Linked DNA regions of Homo sapiens. The protein of the gene in region 2 interacts with the protein of the main gene of each other region in a biochemical or structural test. Each region holds a gene or a part of one and is shown on either strand. Other genes may lie near its edges.

What was found. Proteins that work in one complex are often made in the same cells at the same time.
Region 1: the proteins of NOTCH4 (region 2) and MAML1 form a complex in vitro, tested with the Homo sapiens proteins (one study listed by BioGRID).

The regions. Positions count from the first base shown.
Region 1 is NC_000005.10:179,763,822-179,770,845, forward strand, and holds part of MAML1 (mastermind-like protein 1), read left to right. Parts: intron 1-1,504; coding exon 1,505-2,920; intron 2,921-5,028; coding exon 5,029-5,268; intron 5,269-7,024. UniProt on the Homo sapiens protein: Acts as a transcriptional coactivator for NOTCH proteins. Has been shown to amplify NOTCH-induced transcription of HES1. Enhances phosphorylation and proteolytic turnover of the NOTCH intracellular domain in the nucleus through interaction with CDK8.
Region 2 is NC_000006.12:32,221,066-32,228,538, forward strand, and holds the start of NOTCH4 (neurogenic locus notch homolog protein 4 preproprotein), read right to left. Parts: upstream 3,003-7,473; 5' UTR 2,864-3,002; coding exon 2,791-2,863; intron 2,022-2,790; coding exon 1,940-2,021; intron 1,742-1,939; coding exon 1,446-1,741; intron 261-1,445; coding exon 1-260. UniProt on the Homo sapiens protein: Functions as a receptor for membrane-bound ligands Jagged1, Jagged2 and Delta1 to regulate cell-fate determination.

The DNA.
Region 1 (7,024 bases), on a different chromosome or scaffold from region 2:
AAAGATAATAATGAGGGCTGTTACTTGGAACATTTTCTAATAACATGCTATAGATGCTTAGGGTTTATGGGAAGGGGGGATGGTACTGGGGGTGGGGGATAAAGGACAAAAACGTAATAAAGTAAACACAGGAAAGGAGCAGCATGTGTTTGGAAGCTGAGCATAGGCACTCCCTCTGAGCAGTGGAGTTGAGTCCTGACTGCAGCACATGCAGGTGAGGAAGCAGTAGAAGGAGTCCGTCTTCTGTCCCCTTCCCATCCCTTCTGACATGTTCTTATCTTGAAATCGCCGCCCCTGAACTCCCAGGGTACTTACTGTGTGCTGCTCTCACTCTGTAGCCCTGTCTGTGTATGTCCCATGTCCTGAAAGCCCACCCGAGGAGGAGCTGTCTTCTTTGTCTTTATGTTCCCCACAGCACTTGTCTCTGGCACAAGGCAGAATCTTAATAACTTCAGTGGCATGAATCCATCGAGGAGCAGATGGGAAGCAGAGTCACAGTGTCACACCAGACAGATTATGTTCAAGCAAATAGTCCCAATAAGAAGTAGTGAGGGGCCGGCCGGGCGCAGTGGCTCACACCTGTAATCCCAGCCCTTTGGGAGACTGAGGTGGGCAAATCACCTGAGGTCTGGAGTTCAAGACCAGTCTGACCAACATGGAGAAACCCCGTCTCTACTAAAAATACAAAATTAGCTGGGCATGGTGGCACATGCCTGTAATCCCAGCTACTCTGGAGGCTGAGGCAGGAGAATGGCTTGAACCCTGGAGGCGGAGGTTGCTGTGAGCCAAGATCACGCCATTGCACTCCAGCCTGGGCAACAAGAGCGAAACTCTGTCTCAAAAAAAAAAAAAGTGAGGGGCTGGGCACAGTGGCTCATGCCTGTAATCCCAGCACTTTGGGAGGCTGAGACGGGTGAATCACTTGAGGCCAGGAGTTTGTGACCAGCCTGGCCAACATGGTGAAACCCCGTCCCTACCAAAAAATACCGGAAGTTAGCCAGGCACAGTGGTGCACATCTGTAATCCCAGCTACTTGGGAGGTTGAGGCATGAGAATTGATTGAACTCAGGAGACGGAGGTTGCAGTTAGCTGAGATTGTGCCACCGCACTCCACCCAGCCTGGCGGCAGAGCAAGGCTCCATCTCAAAACATATATATATATATAATATATATATGTGTGTGTGTGTGTGTGTGTGTGTACTCTCTGGCATTTTTTTGTTGGCTCCATTCTTGGGCATACCGCCAGACGAGATGGCTGTGGGCAGCCTCATGCCTGTCTCCTGCAGAAAGAGGACTGCAGAAGCACTTTAGCTAGACATCAGTTCTGACTGGCCAGGTATAGGACCGTCAGGGAAAATGGAGGTGTGTCCCCAGAAATGGGAGTGTACACTATGCAAGCAGAACCCACTGGCGAGCATTGCAGGGACATCAGCCCTTGGCTTGTTACTGTCATAGCAGAGCAAATTCATATGTATCTTAAGTCATTCTTTTCAATGTTTTTCAGCATCTTCATGATACAGTTAAGAGGAATCTTGACAGCGCCACTTCCCCTCAGAATGGCGATCAACAGAATGGCTACGGGGACCTCTTTCCTGGGCATAAGAAGACTCGCCGGGAGGCCCCTCTGGGAGTTGCCATCTCTTCCAATGGACTGCCTCCAGCCTCCCCCCTCGGTCAGTCTGACAAGCCTTCTGGAGCCGACGCCCTGCAGTCCAGTGGGAAGCACTCTCTGGGGCTAGACTCTCTCAACAAAAAGCGTCTGGCTGACTCCAGCCTTCACTTGAATGGAGGCAGTAACCCCAGTGAGTCATTTCCTCTGAGCCTGAATAAAGAACTGAAGCAGGAGCCTGTCGAAGACCTGCCTTGCATGATCACTGGGACTGTCGGCTCCATATCGCAAAGCAACCTCATGCCAGACCTCAACCTTAACGAGCAGGAGTGGAAGGAGCTCATCGAGGAGCTGAACAGGTCGGTGCCCGATGAAGACATGAAGGACCTGTTTAATGAGGACTTCGAGGAGAAGAAGGACCCAGAGTCTTCTGGCTCTGCCACACAAACCCCCTTGGCACAGGACATTAATATTAAGACGGAATTCTCTCCAGCAGCCTTTGAGCAAGAACAGTTAGGCTCTCCACAAGTGAGGGCCGGGTCTGCAGGGCAGACCTTTCTGGGGCCTTCCTCTGCCCCTGTGAGTACAGATTCCCCCAGCCTAGGGGGCTCCCAAACCTTATTCCACACCTCTGGTCAGCCCCGGGCGGACAATCCCAGTCCAAACCTGATGCCGGCATCAGCCCAGGCCCAGAACGCACAAAGAGCCCTTGCAGGTGTGGTATTGCCCAGTCAGGGCCCAGGAGGGGCCTCAGAGCTGTCCTCTGCCCACCAGCTCCAGCAGATCGCTGCCAAGCAGAAGCGCGAGCAGATGCTCCAGAACCCACAGCAGGCCACCCCGGCACCAGCCCCGGGCCAGATGTCCACATGGCAGCAGACGGGGCCCTCCCACAGTTCCTTAGATGTCCCTTACCCCATGGAGAAGCCTGCCAGCCCTTCCAGCTACAAGCAAGACTTCACTAACTCCAAACTGCTCATGATGCCTAGTGTGAATAAGAGTTCCCCTCGGCCCGGAGGCCCCTACCTCCAGCCCAGCCATGTGAACCTGCTGAGTCACCAGCCACCGAGTAACTTGAATCAGAACTCCGCGAATAACCAGGGGTCTGTGCTGGACTACGGCAATACAAAACCCCTTTCTCATTACAAAGCGGACTGTGGGCAAGGCAGCCCGGGGTCTGGCCAGAGCAAGCCAGCCCTGATGGCTTATCTTCCCCAGCAGCTGTCCCATATAAGTCACGAGCAGAACTCCCTGTTTCTGATGAAGCCAAAGCCAGGAAATATGCCTTTCCGATCACTGGTTCCACCTGGCCAGGTAAGTATGAGCCTTTGCTTTCTGTTCCTCTGCTGCAGACACTTCAGTGAGGTTACTCACTACTTTGGATGTTAATTGGATCCGAGGTAGTTGTGGGAAGAGGGAGGAGGGAATAGCTGCTGTCATCCTTGCTCCTCTTGGGAGTGGAAATTTATAAAATAAACCAGGGTTGATTGTTAATAAAAAATAGGGTAAAGTTCCCTGGCATAGCTTGATTATTAACTGCACGAAGGTTTCAGGAATCACCTGCATTTAGTCCACTGTCTCTTTCGTGCCGTAGGATTTAAATTAAGTAATTTGCGACTGTGTTTTGCAGATAAACATTACGTTTCACGTGCTTCTTAGAGGCTTGGCTTTTTTTTTTTTTTTTTTTTTTTACTACCTTTCAGATCTCCATGTACAAAATTCCCTAATTTTTGGTAAGCTTATAACATTGTAGGCATGTGCTGCTTCCCAGCACAGCTCAGCTCTGTGCTTACTTCATCATGGTTCTAAAGCCCGGTAGCATCAAATGGAAAATGGCCCTTCGGGTTGTTTCCTGTTTTCCGCTAGTGCAGATAAGCCTGCAGTGAACGTGAATTTGTAATACATGCTAAAATTTTGCAAATTAAAAAGCCCAGTGCCGGTAATATCATGAGGAAATAGACACACTCCTGTATTGATGAGAGTGTGTAAATGAGCTCACTGCTTTTGGGAAGTCATTTGACATTATGTATTTTTCACATGCTGTAAAATGTTCATATGCATTGACACACTATATACCCGACAAGTTGATCTAAAGAAATAATCCAAAATAAAAGAAAAAGTTATATCCAAGATATTCATTGTGTGGTTATTTCTAATAGCCAAAAACTGTAAGCCATTTAAGCATCTCCCAGTGCTGATAATTCCACTTACTTCAGCCAGTAAGATGTCTCACGCCGTTCAGCACCCCCTGAAGAGAGGCTCAGCTGCACACAGTGAGGGTGCTTGCCATCTGGGTAGCACTTTGCAACTTACGAAGCACTCTCAGTAGTTCTTAAGCTTCTGGTGATTAGAGTGAAGAAATTATACCAGAATCTTAGAATGAATAACTAGAAAGGAGCTCAACAATTTGAACTGGTTTAAATAATGATTGCTTTTTGCCTATCTTCTGCTAAGTTCCCCTTTTCTTCTAAGTGTCAGTAATGACGGGATAATATTGTGGTGGCCTTTGACATGACTCTCACTTGTGGTCTATATATTGACAGAGAATATCTGTTAAAGTTCTCATTGATTCTCAGTATTTTTTGAGGATGGGTATTTGACAAAAGCTAAGCAGTCTCTTCCAGTAAAATGCTTGCGCAGATGTACAGTTTCGGGTCGTTCAGGGATAGCCCGAAATCCAAGGTTTATGCACATGGGACAGAGTGGTCTCCATTGACCAAAGCCCCCTTCAAAGTGTTCTTCCCCTAGGCCGGGTGCAGTGGCTCATGCCTGTAATCCCAGCACTTTGAGAGGCCGAGGTGGGTGGAGCACCTGAGGTCGGGAGTTCGAGACCAGCGTGACCAACATGGAGAAACCCCCATCTCTACTAAAAATACAAAATTAGCCAGGTGTGGTGGCACATGCCTCTAATCCCAGCTACTCAGGAGGCTGAGGCAGGGGAATCGCTTGAATTCGGGAGGCAGAGGTTGCGGTGAGCCAAGATCGTGCCATTGCACTCCAGCCTGGGCAACAAGAGCGAAACTCCGTCTGAAAAAAAACAAAAAGTATTCTTCCCCTATTGGCCCGCTCTGCACTCAGATGTCCTGATAAGTGAGCATTTCTAAGCCTCGATTGCTTACTGGAACTATTGTGTGCAAATATGAAAGCTTACATATGCTTAACGTAAAACCATACCTTTGTCACTGGTGAATCACTGGGAGTAAAACTAACACCTATGGAGTAATTGTTCGTTGCTAGGCGCCTGTATGCTCAGATGTCATCACTTTTGGTCTGTGCTCCAGCCCTGTGGGATGGTTGTTATTCGAGGTCAGAAGGGAAGCAGAGACTTGGCTTCAAGAGAGTGAACCTTGAATTCACTGGATGGAGCTTATTTGGTCTGATCAGAGCTTAGAGACTTCACAGTCCCCTATCTGTGTTGACAGGAGCAGAACCCTTCCAGTGTCCCTGTGCAAGCCCAGGCTACCAGTGTTGGGACCCAGCCGCCTGCCGTGTCCGTGGCCAGCTCCCACAACAGCTCCCCCTATCTCAGCAGCCAGCAACAGGCCGCTGTAATGAAGCAGCATCAGTTGCTTTTGGACCAACAGAAACAAAGGGAGCAGCAGCAAAAGCATTTACAGCAACAGCAGTTCCTTCAGAGGCAACAGCACCTTCTCGCGGAACAGGTAAAAAGAAAAGTGGAAGGAAACCACCGCTTCCCACCTTTGCCTGCACCCTGCGTCACTGCTACAGTCACACCTTCTGCTTGTGCGTGTGGATTTGCGCAGACTTGCGTGCCTGTTGTTAGAGTGCTTTGCCTTTTAAAAACATCTTTCCAGGAATGTGGCATTTCTCAGACAGGGGTAGTCTTGTCAGAAGCTGCTTCGTGTCACTTAGTGGAGAGTACTCAAGGCAGACTCGGGGGCTAAAACTGTTTGTGGAAGGGACATTTTCCTATGTTTCAGGTCAGCAGCTTCCAAGCCACTGAGCTCACGTGTCTGTCATTCCACTATGGAGTCAGCTTTGCTGCCACTACAGAGCCTGTTATAAGCCAGAACGTGAAGAGGGAAGTGAAGTCATCCCTGAGGGAAACACAGTTCACTCGCTTGGTTAGCAAGTGTAGTGTGCAGGCACTAAGGGTTACAAGTGAGAGTTCTTTTTTTTTTTTGGAGACAGAGTCTTGCTGTCACCCAGGCTGGACTGCAGTGGTGCGATCTTGGCTCACTGCAGCCTCCACCTCATGGGTTCATGCAATTCTCCTGCCTCAGCCTCCCGAGTAGCTGGGACTACAGGCAAGAACCACCATGCCTGGCTAATTTTTGTGTTTTTAGTAGAGATGGGGTTTCACCACGTTGGCCAGGCTGGTCTTGAGCTCCTGACCTCAAGTGATCCACTCATCTCGGCCTCCCAAAGTGCTGAGATTACAGGCGTGAGCCACCACGCCTGGCCTTAAATTACATCTTTAAGACATAAGAACTGGCTCCAGACAGTGAGGTTCATTGAGGACAATCCCTGCCTCAGTTCTGCCTTTAAGAAAAGCAGCTTTATTGTGATGTAACTCACACAGCATACACTTCACCCACGTAAGTGAACAATTTAGTCATTTTTAGTATATCACAGAGTTGTGCAACCATTACCACAATCCATTTTAGAACATTTTCATTACCCTAAAACAAATCCCATACCCATGAGCAGCCATTCTCCCATCCACCCTGCCTCTCCAGCTCCTGATCTACTTTCTGTCTCTATAATTGTCTGCTCTGGGCTGGGCGCAGTGGCTCACTCCTATAATCCCAGCACTTTGGGAGGCCGAGGTGGGCGGATCACGAGGTCAGGAGATCAAGACCATCCTGGCTAACACAGTGAAACCCCGTCTCTACTAAAAATACAAAAAATTAGCCAAGTGTGGTGACGGGCGCCTGTAGTCCCAGCTACTCGGGAGGCCGAGGCAGGAGAATGGCGTGAACCTGGGAGGGGAGCTTGCAGTGAGCAGAGATCGCGCCACTGCACTCCAGCCTGGGCGACAGAGCAAGACTCCATCTCAAAAAAAAAAAATTGTCTGTTCTGGACATTTTATATTTATGTTATGTCATTTTCAATCATGTGCTAGGTAACAGCAATTGATTCCTCTTGATAATAATATTCCATTGTATGGACATGTTACATTTTATTCATTCGTCTGTTCATGAACATTTGGGTTTCTTGTTTGGGCTGTTAATGAGTATTGCTGCTATGAACATTCATGTACAAGTTTTCATATAGACATCTGTTTTCATTTTTCTTGGGTAGATACCTGGGAGTGGAATTGCTGGATCACATGGTAATTTTTATGTTTAACCTTTGGAGGAACTGTCAGACTGTTTCCCACAGGCTGTCTCATTTTACATTCCCACCAGCGGTGTATGAGGGTGCTGATTTCTCTACATCCTCACCAACCACTTG
Region 2 (7,473 bases):
GGGTCCTGCCCGCAGCTCACAACGTGGACCCTCCTGCCCCACAGGGCAGAGGCACTGGAAGGAGCCCAGGGTGTTATGGCAGGAGGTGCCTTTGGGGCAGGGTCCTGGGTCCTGGAAGCACTCGTTGACATCACGTTCACAGGCATGGCCCTCGAAGCCCGGTGGGCAGTGGCACTGGATCTGGGGGTATGTGGCCAGACACACCCCTCCATTAACACATGGGTTGGCTGAACAGAAGTCCCGAAGCTGGCACTGCTCACCTGAGGCAGAGGACAGAGGGAGCCGTTTCTAGCATTGTACGAATTCTAGCCCATCTGAGGTTACCCAGTGCTCACTCTGGATTATCTCTGGGTCTCATTTTCATATTTCCTTCCCTTTATTACCATACTTTCTTTGCTCTGTTCCATCACCCCTGCTCTGAGCGATGTCATGGCTTGGGAGGGTTTATCTGGAGTGACCATATCTTCTAAAGTGATGATGAGAGTATTGCAAATTGGCCTTGCCTGAGAAAATCTGGGACGTGGGTGATCTTGGGGGAGGTGAAAAGCACCCCACGTCTGCAGGCAGGAGACTCAGGTGGCACCATGCTGTGCCACAACTGGTTGTATACCCTTGGGTGAGCCACTTTGCCTTTCTGATCCTCATTTCCTAATCTTTAAGTGGGTTTAGGCACCTGGAGACTCACTTCACAGTCCATGTGCACCAGTGGTAATGGCGGCAGCAGTGGAGGTGCCAGGTGCTGAGCTGAGCAAGCATCTCCTGAGCATCGGCCCCTTCTGTCCTCTCAGCAACCTTATGAAGTGTGACCATTACTCTCCCTGTTTGTCAGCTGACAACTGAACACCAGAAAGCTAAAATATCTTATATGAGGTCATGTAGCTGATCAGTGGCAGAGCTAGCATTTGGATCCAGGGGCTGGTGCAGAGCCCCTAGAATGAAGCACTAAGCTTGCCCCAGGGTTACACCCCTCCTCCTGGGGCGGCCCCCAATCCACTCTCTGGGTCACATCCTTCCCTTCCCGGTGCCCCTCCCACCACTGCAGTCTTCCCAGGTGATATAATGGCTCCCTCCACTCAGAATGGGAGCCATTCAGATGCTCAGAATGCAAAAGTCTGGAGGACCCCTGGTATGCAGAGCAATGACCCTCTTCTAGCTGCTAGGCAATGGGGAGATTAAAGGGGCTAGAACAGGCATCAGGATGGTGCACAAAGGGGGCTCATGGCACCCTTAATTTGGAAATATTTTAACATTTTAGCAATCAGTACAACCATGCTGGTGAATGTTGGTTGTGGGTAAGTGGATTGCCAAGAATTGGCATGTTGATTCTCATGGCTTCTGTCTTCAAAGGGCTTGCAGTTTCTCAGGCTCCAGTTCTATCTTCCCCACCCACAGCCTAGCCCATTGCTCCTGCCTGTCCCCTCCTGGCTGCCCCCAGCAGCGCTTACCTGTCCATCCAGGCATGCAGGAGCACTGTGGGCGGCCCGAGGCCTGGATGTGGCAGCGGCCCCTTTTGGAACAGAAGGAGGGAGGACAAGGGTCTTCAAGCTTGGCCTGGCATCTCTCACCAGTGAAGCCAGGGAGGCAAGTGCACAAGAAGCTGGGTGTCAATGGAGAGGGAGAGCTGGGGAGCCCTAGGGGAGCGGGAAGCAGGGCTTGGCAGCTGCCTCCATTTTGGCAGAGCTGGGCGTTCTGGCAGGGGTCAGGAAACTGGCACGTCTCACCCAGGAAGCCAGGGGCACACCTGGGCAGGGGAGGAGAGGAAAACTCACATCACTGGTCCCTCTTCCTATTCTTGCCCACTCCCTCCTCTGCCTTCATTTGTTTCCCTTCATCTCCTTCACTTCCTCTCTTTCTTCTTTGGTCTCACTTCCTCACCTCTCCCCCCCTGCTCTCCCTCCCCCTTTCTCTCCAGTCTCCCACTCCTGCAAGGCACACTCACTGGCAGGTCCCTTGTCCCAGAGACAGGCTCAGGCAGGTGCCTCCATTGGCACAGGGTTCTGGGAAACTCCCACACAGCAGCCCTGAGGGTGGAGAGGCAGGCGCAATGGAAGCCCTGGGTGCTGTGCCTCCACCTTTCCTCTTCTAGGTGCTCCTGAGAGACCTGCCCACAGCAGCTCCCACAGGTACTCTAAACCACCTCTTCTTCACATCTGTCCCCACTCTCCACATGGTACCCAGCCCCAGCCCCAGTGCCCTCCGTCCCAGTTACTAATCCCTACCCCCCTTTCCTGTTTATTCTCTGGCCTCCCAAGTCCAGCCTCGGACTCCATCTCTCGGAAGCAAGACAACAGGGGTCAGAAGAGGGGCGGAGGTGGCTCCCGGGAGGTGAATGGCTGAGACTTCGAAGAGATTTCCTCCCGGAAAGGCCGAGCATTGAGCCATCCGGGGGGTGGGGACAGCTGGACTAAGAAAGGGCTTAGTAGGCCTGACCTTTCATGTCCCCATCTCCTGCTTCCCTCTCATCTCCTCCCCAAGCAGGTGGTCAGTGTGTTCCCTCTTCCCCTCTTCCCTATGGCTGCAAGAGTCCTCCAGTGCCAGTGCTGACGAGGTTCTTCCTGGAGGTGGGCACCCTCTCACCCATCCCCCAGCAGTCACCACCCCTGGCACCAGGCCCGAAGCAGCTCCATGGGCAGAGCCGTCTTTCCCTGGAGGCCGTCTCTATTTGGGCAGTGAGAATCTCCTCCATCCAGCATCCCTCACACGGCCTGGGGCTTGGCCCTCTTCCCCCACCCCACTGATCATCCTCCTAAGGGAGCTGGGTCCCCTCACCTCACCCACGCCATGCCTCACCTCTGGGTCTGACCACTGAGACACATAGCAGCAGCAGCAGCAGCAGCAGCAGCAGCAGTGAAGGGGGCTGCATTCCACAGCCCCTTCTCCAAGCCCCGGTCCCTGTCCCTCTTCAGGCAGGGACCCTCAGAGCTCTCACTGGGGCAGGAGCCACCTCCTCTGCTCCCACTGCCCCTCTTCTTCCTCCTCGGCCTGCTGCAAGCCTCACGTCTGAGCTGTTTCCTGAGTCACACAATGTCCTGGACACCCTAGTAATGGGGGGCGGAGGAAGAGTGGAGGAACACTAGGGGGGATGAAGGAGGGGCCTTCTGTCCCTGACAACCCCTGGGGAAGTAGGGGGAAGTAGGACGGTGTGCCTGGAGGGCAGGTGATAGGAGGGGAGAAGGAATCTCGGAACCCCCTGGGCAGTCCCAGCCCTGCTGTTTGTTGATCTGGTCTCTCCTTTCTAGGGATGAGAATTGCAAGGTGGCTGCCCTGTGCCCCAGGAGGGGCAGGACCTGGAAACAGGTATTGGGTGGTTACAGAGTTCTGTATTCCTCCTCCCAGGAGAGGATGCTTAATTTGCCAGGTTATTACAGATGCTTCTCAGAGAACCTGCAACTTGTCATAATTTGAAACCACTCACCTTGGCTAAAGGAACCCAGGGGCTTCTGGGCCTTATCTTGGCTCTTGCCAGGACTTATTTTTCTCCTTCTGGCAAATGGGCAAGATGCTGGCCGGTTTTGGGGAAATCTTGGTCTTCCTGTTGTAGGGGAATGTTAAGACTGTCATTATCAGTGATAAATGAACATAGTCTACCCTAAATTTTGCAGTCTGAATTGTCTGTAACAAACACTGAATTTGGGTAGTTTTCACTTCCTCCATCTCTGCCTCCCTCCGCTGTCAAGGTCCTTGGGATGCAGGGAATGCCAGTCAGAATGCAAAATTGGAGTCAATAAAATCACAAAAGAGAATTCTTTGCCTCAGAATGCTCATCCTACCTTCTTGAGTCAACCCAGGACAACTTTGGGGTCAACCACACACTGAGTTCCTTTAGTAGCACAGGGAACTGAGAGTCCAGGGTGGCAGAAGGTGTCAGTGGCAGCTGTGCTCTCCCTGGTGTTGAGGCACTCATGGCTGCTGCTGGTGCACCTGAGAGCCTTCCCCTACCGGGGAATATACTTCACCAGCACCACTTTCTTCCTTTTTTTAGCTTTTTATTTTAAAATACTTTTAATCTCATGGGAAAGGGGCAAAAATACTAAAAAGAATTCCAGGATACCCTTCACTCAGATTCATCCACTAATATCATTTGACCACATTTACTTTATCATTATTTCTCTATAAATACACATTTGTATTTTTTTCTGAACCATTTGAGAGTAAGTTGCATACAAGATACCCTTTACCCTTAAATCCATCAGTGCAAATTTTCTAAGAACAAAACATTCTTTTACATAATATAGTACAATTATCCAAATCAGGAAACTTAGACCGATGTAATACTATGATCTAATTGACAGTCCAAATTCAGGTCCTGCCAATTGCCCCATAATGTCCTTCATGACAATTTTTTCCTTTGGTCTAGGATCTCATTTGGCATCCTGCATTGCATTTAGCTGTCGAGTCTTTTTAGTTTCCTTTAATATGAGTACAGTACCTTAAATGTACTTTGCCTTTCATTATATTGACTTTTTTTTTTTTTTTTTTGAGACAGTCCAGGCTGGATTGCAGTGGCACGACCTTGGCTCACTGCAACCTCCACCGCCTGGGTTCAAGCAATTCTCGTGCCTCAGCCTCCTGAGTAGCTGGGATTACAGGCGCCCACCACCACGCCTGGCTGACTTTTTGTATTTTAGTAGAGACAGGGTTTCACCATGGTGCCCAGGCTGGTCTCAAACTCCTGAGCTTAGGCAATCCACCCATCTTGGCCTCCCAAAGTGCTGGGATTACAGGCGTGAGCCACCGCACCTGGCCGATACTGGCATTTTTAAGCATACAGGACAGTTGTTTTGTAGACTGTTCCTAAATTTGAGTATGTCTGGTGTTTATGCATTTTTGGGCACGAGTACCAGTGTATCACATTAGGAAGCCCGTGAGCCAGCATCATTTATAATGGTCACCCAGTATTCTACTAGTTCATTTAAACCAATTTCCTATTATAGCATGTTTAGGTGGGTCTCAATTTGCTTTCTGTTTTTTTAGAGACAGGGTCTTGCTCTGTCACTCAGGCTGGAGTGCAGTGGCACGCACATAGCTCACTATAACCTTGAATTCCTGGGCTCACGGCAACCTCCTTCCTCGGCCTCCCAAAGCTCTGGGATTACAGGTGTGTACCACCACACCTGGCCTTCAATTTTTAAACATATAATAAACTGAGCTGTGGTAAATATTCTTTTTTTTCTTTTTCTTCTTCTTTTTTTTTTTTTTTGAGATGGAGTCTCACTCTGTTGTCCAGGATGGAGTGCAGTTGTGTGATCTCGGTTCACGGCAACCTCTGCTTCCTGGGTTCAAGCTACTCCTGCCTCAGCCTCCTGAGTAGCTGGGATTACAGGCACATGCCTGGCTGATTTTTGTATTTTTAGTAGAGACGGGGTTTCATCATGTTATCCAGGCTGGTCTCGAACTCCTGACCTCAGGTAATCTGACCACCTCTTTCGGCCTCCCAAAGTGCTAGGATTATAGGTGTGAGCCACCGCGCCCAGACCTTCGGTAAATATCCTTGAACTTACATATTTGCATGGCTAATTATTGCCTTAGGCTAAATTCTAGAAGTGAAACCCCTGAGTGAAAGGGTGAAGACATAGACTTGTTTTAAAGCTCTTGGTCTCTATGTGTTGCCAAGCCATTCTCCAGAAAGCAGTGAGGCCTTTCTACTCCAGTTAGTAGTGTCTGCCTGTGTCCTTACTCTCGCCAACCCTCCACATTAGAATCCTCGCCACTTTGATAGATGAAATGGTCTCTTATTGCTCCTTTAAACTGCACATTTGTTGTTAAATGTCAACATTCTTTTTAACTGTTTAATGGCTATTCGTGTTTCCTGTCCATGCTTTTGTGAGTTTCCTGTCCATGCTTTTGTCCCATTGTCCTATTGGTGTCATTGTCATTTTCCCATCACCTTCCTTAGTCGAGGAGGCAATTGTGGGTATGGGGAAGAGGAACCCTAGTGTAAAAGTCCCTGCTTTTGTACTCTCTGGTTTGCTGACTGGGGATTTGGTGCTGGTGAGTAGTGAAAGGAAAATGGGAAGAGACAACAGGTTTCTCATGGAACCGCGAAGACCTTGGTGGAAAGAACTGAACTCACCATTTCTGCAATGTTGACAATCTAACACCATTTGTGGAAAGGGAGGCTGGGGCACTAGGCTGGAGCTTGAGAAAAAGGAGAAATTGCAACGGAGACAGAGAAGTGGTTAGGTGGAAGGGAACCAGAAGTGTGGTGGGCAGAAGCTGAGTTTAAAGACAGTGTCAGGAAGCTGCCTGCCCACTTCTTGCTTTATCCTGCTTAAGGTAAGGCAGTGTGCACCTGCTCAGGCATTATGAGCTATGCTTGGGTCCCAGATACTTTTCCTGGCCTCTAAGACCTTACAGCCCAAAGCAGTATTGATGCTCCCCCAAGAGCTTGTTTCTCCTTCCCAATGGTTTCCCAAGGGTTGATACTGACCAGGGTGGTACCATCATCACTACAGTGAACTGCAGCATGCCAGGGATACAGATAGTTCCCTCTGGGAAATGACCCTTTTTCCTACAGTATTTCATCAAATAGAGATTCATTTTATTAAAGGGATTTTCTTTCATTGTATACCCCCTGAGAAGGATAAACCTGTCAGTCATTCACACTTCAGTCATAGGGACTTGTGACCTTAAAAGGTGAACTCCGAGGTTGGCCCTGATAATGTGTCCAAACACAAAGAAGGCAATAGGCCACTGTAGCCATAGAGATAAGCAAGAGTGCCAGGTGCAGCGGTGGCTCATGCCTGTACTCCCAGCACTTTGGGAGGCCAAGGTGGGAGAATCACTTGATCCCAGGAGTTCAAGATCAGCCTGGGCAACATAGGGAAACCCCATCCCTATGAAAAAATACAAAAATTAGCAGGCCGTGGTGATGCACACCTGTTGCCCCAGCTACTTGGGAGGCTGACGTGGGAGGATCACTTGAGCCCAGGAGGTTGAGGCTGCAACGAGCCATAATCATGCCACTGCAATCCAGCCAGGGTGACAAGGTGAGACCAGAGTGAGAAAAAAAAAAAAAAAAAAGAAATAAGCAAGAGTAATCCACTCTTGGAGATTATTTGTAAATATATGGTTCGGGAGATATGGAGCCCCTCGTTGCCCCAGGCCCCTCCCTCTCTGCCTCCCTGTTGGTTACTCTTCATCTCTCCAACCTCTTACCATTGTAGTGTCCATGGTTATTCCCTGGGCCTCTTCTAGTTTTCTGTCTCCCTAGGTGATCTCATCCAGTCTCCTGGCTCCCTACCAGATTCAGATACCATCTATGAAGACCACCTTTGTGCTGATGACTCTCAAGATCATACACTTCCCGGAACTCCAGACTTGTACTTCCAAGTACAAGTACCACAAACTTAACATGTCCAGAACTGACCTGATCTTCTCCCTTAACCTTCTCTTCCTTCCTGATAGAATTGAGTTTTGCAGTTCTATTCTTTCCATTGTTTAGGCCCAAATCCTTGAAGATATTGCTGACTC